2 separate regions of the Homo sapiens genome follow, and region 2 is linked to region 1. The links come from fine-mapping of genetic effects on gene expression. Tissue or cell type: skeletal muscle. Region 1 holds a variant in brackets; the other region holds the start of a gene. All regions are shown on one strand. Distances are between the middles of the regions.

Region 1 (2,682 bases):
ACTTTTTTTTTTAATTTTTTTTTTTTTTTTTTTTTTTGAGACAGAGTCTCTCTCTGTCCCTCAAGCTGGAGTGCAGTGGCGCGATCTTGACTCACTGCAACCTCCACTTCCTGGGTTCAAGCAATTCTCCTGCCTCAGCCTCCCAGGTAGCTGGGATTACAGGTGCAGGCTGCCACGCCCAGCTAATTTTTTGTATTTTTAGTAAAGACGGGGTTTCATTATTTTGGCCAGGCCAGTCTCGAACTCCTGACCTCAGGTGATCCACCTGCCTCGGCCTCCCAAAGTGCCGGGATTACAGGCGTAAGCCACCACGCCCGGCCTTTTTTTTTTTCTTTAACTTTTAAGTTCAAGGGTGCATGTGCTGGTTTGTTGCATAGGTAAACATGTGTCATGGGGGTTTGTTGTTCAGATTATTTCATCACCCAGGTATTAAGCCTAGTACCTGTTAGTTATTTTTCCAGATCCTCTTCTTAAGATTTTCAAGTGAGGAAGTGAAATGAGGGTGGAAAGGCAGAGGAGGGTGCTTTGCTTAGAGACCAGGACAGGTCAGAGACAGGGCATAGGCACAGCTGTGGACTGACCACCCCCTGCCTCCCCAGCCAGAAGTGCCGGGAAATGCAGACATCCCTATTTGGACTCTGGTGCAGTCCTCTGTTGCTATGGCAACTCAGGGGCTCTGTGGTTGGTGGAAGAAGGCAGTGGCTGTGTGGAAATCGGCATTGGAGGCAGCAGCTGTGCCCTTTTGCTCCAGCAGTCTGGGTATTTCTGATGGGGGCAGGGTGGGGATACTCCCTCTGCCATCTCAGGAAGCCACACAGGAGACCCCTGGACTCCACGGCCAATGCCTCTGGCTCAGATCAGCTCCCACCCAGACTCCCTCACAGGGAGGAACCAGGCTTCTGTATGGAGTGGCAATTCCCTTGGCACCCCTACCTTGAGTATCTCCTCAGACCATATATTCCCCTGGGATTTCCTCTTCATTTTCCTCATTGATTCATTCATTCATTTGTTCATTCATTCAGCAAGTATATACCGCACAAAATGCTGGGCCAGAGCAGTGAAAAAGACAGACGAGGCTCCTGCCTTCAGGGAGCCTCCAGTTTAGTTGGGGAGAACACAGCACACAAATAAGTAGAAAGAGAGAGAGACTCAGATGCTAATAAACAGGCGACATGATCCAGAGAAATTAAGGCTGGACTGATTTAGAATGAATGGTCAGGAAAGGTCTTTCTGAAGTTGAGAAGGAGCTACAGGTGTTGGGAGTGGTCCAAGGAAGAGCAAGTGCAAAGGCTCAGAGCGGCGGGCCATGGCATTAGGGGCAGAGAAATGAGGGGGTCAGGGGCAGCAGCAGAAGCCAGGGCTGGAGA[A/G]AGGCGGGCTGGGATAAGCAGAGCCTTGTCATGGAGTCTGGTTTTCACTCTGAAGGCAATAGGAAGCACTGGTTGCCTTTAAGCACAAGAGGGGAGTGATCCCACTGATGCTTTTAAATGCTCCCTCTGCTAGCCTAGGGGACAATGGACTTCCTGCAGGAAGGCAAGAGTTGAAGCAGGGGACCCATGAGGAAACCACTGCGCTGGCCCAGGTGAGAGCTGAAGGGCTGCCTGTGCTGGTATGGATGGAGACAGAGGATTTGCAGGTAAGCCCAGCAGGACTTGCTGAGGGACCGAGGGTGGAGGACAAGGAAAAGGGGACTCAAGGATGACTCCCAGAGTCTGATTGAAACTTGGGTGAGTGGAGGTGCCATCTGTGAAGGGAGGGATGATAGCAGAGGCGGGGGAGAAATTGCACTGCATCTCAGCTCTGTTGGCCTGGATGACACATTCAAGTTATCCAAGAGCATCTTTCATTTTCACCATGAAATCCCTGAGAACTGAAGCATTTTATAAGCAACATTTCTAAAGTGTTAAGTCGAAAGGAAGCTTTCTTACAACACACTAACAGGGAAGAAAGTAATTATGTTAAAAGCTAACTGTTGGATGTCCTAGGTTGGTGGCACAACTCACTTAGGGCAATACCTGCTCTTTTGTAAGATAAACACCTTGATGGGTCATTTTCCGGTGTGGAAGGTGAGATCCTCTTGGACATGATGTGAACTAACTTACTACCTGCCAATCTCTGTGTTCACTGTTTTCAATACATTCTAATTTAACCTCTGTTTTTTATATATTATAATAATAATAATTGTTATTATTATTGTTATTACAGGTGTGAGCCACTGCACCCAGCCAAGAGGAAAATGTCTAAATAAATTATAGTATGTCCATACAATAAAATAGTAATGTGATCATTGTAGAGAATGAAATAGATCTATATACTTTAAGTGGGATTATGTCTAAAACAAAATGTTAAATGAAAAAAGCAAGTTGTAGAGTACACAGAATATGGTCTCATGTAGGAAAACAACAAAAATGACCTCTCCATTAAAAAAATAGTCTCAAGGCTGGGAGCGGTGGCTCGTGCCTATAATCCCAGAACTTTGGGAGGCCAACGCAGGCGGATTGCTTGAGCTTAGGAGTTCGAGACTAGCCTGGGTGACATGGGGAAACCCCATCTGTACACTTGATCTTATCCAAAAGGCCAAGAAGCATTGGGAATCCCATCTCTAAAAAATATTAGCTGGGCATGGTAGCATGCACCTGTGATCCCAGGTGCTTGGGAGGCTGTGGCGGGAGGATTGCTTGAGCC
Region 2 (2,682 bases), 43 kb after region 1:
ATACATAATTAACTAAACTTCAAAATTAGAAGCTAAGACAATAATCATATTAATATAACCTCTACACTGCCAACTTGGAAAGGCAATGAAGAAGAAATGGGAATTGCAACAAGCTTCAGAGATGGAAGATTTTGTTTTTCTCTGTAGGACATGTGGGTAGAAGCAATTGCAGATGGCTGGGTGTGAAAGAAACAGACCTTGCAAGCCTGCTATATAGCTATACTGTGCTACATGGCATTGGGAGGTAATAAGATTTAAAAGACAAATACTCTTGTCTTCACAAAGCTTATAATTTAGTTGTGCAATACTGGGTAAGAAAGCTGGCTTAATGGAGTTGTATTCCAGCTTCACCCCTTAGTAGCTCTGTGTCATTGGGTGAGATATTTAATTTCTTTGGGCATAACTTCCTCATCTGTGAAACACTGATAATTGTATCTCCTATATGGCAGCTATGCCAGCCTCCTTTCTGTTCTTCCACAAGACAATCTCTCTCTGGACCGCCCTTTGCACCTGTTCCTGTGGTCGGGAAAGCCTTTAGCATGGCCAAACCCTTCAAGTTTTGACTTCATGTCACCGAGTCAGGGAGCTTTTTTGGAAAATATTGTTTCCGATTCCGCAGATGAGGCTGTTAAAATACTAAAGGATGGCATAAACATGAGGATGCTATTATAATCATCCACCCTAAGTAGGATTTGAGATCCAAGCAGTTCTCAAGGATTTAGGGTTAGCAAACTTTTTCTGTAAAATGTCAGATAGCAAGTATTATAGGGTTTGCAGGCCATACCAAACAAATGGGTGCTGCTGTGTTCCAATAAAACTTTATTTATGGACACTGAAACTTGAATTTCATGTACTTTTCACAGTCATGGTGGCAGACCGGATTTGGCCCCCTCCCTGTCGCTGGCTGACCCCTGGTTTATGAGTACGGCAGATAAAAGAAGGGAGTGAATAAGAACCACGATTCTGCTGCCAGACACGAGGGATCAGGTCGCTGCTGTGAAGATTGTCAACCTCTCTGGTTGCCAACGACCTCGAGAATGGGGTTGTGGTCCCTGCGTCAGGGCGGTTGTGCTGAAGGCTGGATGAGGGCACGTAGGTGAAGCTCAGTGCTTGGCACGAGGTGCTCATCAGCAGCATCGCCCTTGCTTTGGGCTGGCCTGTTAGTAATTCGTTTTTAGTGGAATCGAATACAACACTTGAGCCTCGGAGGCTCAGGTCGTCGGAGCAACTACACCAGGGCCGGTGCACCTCGGGGCGGCGGCGCAGGACTAGGCTAGGCCGGGCCGGGCCGGGCAGGGCGGCGCGAGTCGGGGGTGGGGCGGCGGCGCAGCGCCGTCGTCGTAGTCCCCGCCTCTTCCCCAGGGGCCGCGTCGGAGCCTCGGCGGCGGCGGCGGTGCTTACAGCCTGAGAAGAGCGTCTCGCCCGGGAGCGGCGGCGGCCATCGAGACCCACCCAAGGCGCGTCCCCCTCGGCCTCCCAGCGCTCCCAAGCCGCAGCGGCCGCGCCCCTTCAGCTAGCTCGCTCGCTCGCTCTGCTTCCCTGCTGCCGGCTGCGCCATGGCGTTGGCGTTGGCGGCGCTGGCGGCGGTCGAGCCGGCCTGCGGCAGCCGGTACCAGCAGGTAAGCGGCGCCCGACTCCAGCCCCGAACTCCGGTCCCTGGCTCTGCCCTGCCCGCTGGCCGCCTCAGGCCTCTCTGGCCGGCCCGCGGCCAACTCGACGCCGGGGCTTGGCAGGCCGCGCTGGGCCTGGAGGGGCGGGTCGGGCCCCGGGCTCGGATTCGAGGCTGCCACGGGCCCGGCCTGCCCGTCTGCGACCCCAGGTGGGACTCCGGCGGTGGAAAGTCCTCCTCCCGGCCTCGTTTCCCGCATTTCCCAGGGCGGGCGGGTCCCTGAGTCAGAACCCGCGACCCACAGGCGGCATCGATCTGAGGCATTCGTTTTTCATTTTTCCACCTTTGGTTTGATGTCATTGGAAAAGAAAGAAAGAAAAAAGCATGAAACGGAAACTGGGTGGAGAGAAAAGATTAAAATCTCTGCTGCTGCCGATAGCTCCCCACAGCAAGATGCTATTGCTCAGGGTTTCAGAGCCTAGTTTGTCGAAACCCATCCCCCTCGCCTCCGTTTTAAGACAAAAGTAAAAAATGAAGCAAGAGACAAGCCCGCAGTTTGCAGTAGATTTGGAAGAGGCGATGTTTGGCTGTGGTGATGCCCCAAAAGGGAGAGCTACGATGAAGTCTGCAGGGCGTGTGCCGGGTGTATTTTAAATGCTTGGAAGTGACGTTTTAAGAGATTTGATGGCATAGCTGGGGAGGAAATGTATAGGAAATGATTGGATCATTTTCTCGGGTTTGATTTAATACATTGAGGCCCCAGGGAAAAGAGCTGCTTGTTTCACTCCGCGTCTGTAGCTAAGTTCCCCCAGGAAATTTAGAGACCTTCTGCAGGGTTTTTGGAAGTGTTAATCTAACATACAGTAATGGTGGGAATTGAGCCAGGTGGTAAACTGATGTTGATTGGAACCGCAAATAACGGCTTGTGTTTGTCATGTTTCAGATGCTTTCGGTGCATACAGATGTCAATCCTCCTTTTATCAAATAAAATGTCCTATCTTAGACGATCTACAATTTTATATTTTAGAAGTAAGGAAAGCCAGCCAGTACGATGAAAACGTAGATTAACCCTG

The links. PIP is the estimated chance that this variant, and not a neighbour inherited with it, causes the effect.
Region 2: NDFIP1 starts here. The variant in region 1 is fine-mapped to the expression of NDFIP1 in skeletal muscle (GTEx, PIP 0.91).

Annotation. Positions count from the first base shown.
Region 1 is chr5:142,064,842-142,067,523 of GRCh38, forward strand. No RefSeq gene overlaps it. Among named protein-coding and RNA genes, the nearest start is that of NDFIP1, 43 kb to the right of the region's middle. The variant A/G (reference allele first, on the strand shown) is at 1,368.
Region 2 is chr5:142,107,419-142,110,100 of GRCh38, forward strand. It overlaps NDFIP1 (Nedd4 family interacting protein 1), which reads left to right and starts at 1,361. Exons shown (of 8, transcript NM_030571.4): 1 at 1,361-1,619. The coding sequence starts at 1,557. RefSeq lists an enhancer at 1,112-1,613 and silencers at 1,191-1,460, 1,521-1,650, 1,721-1,790.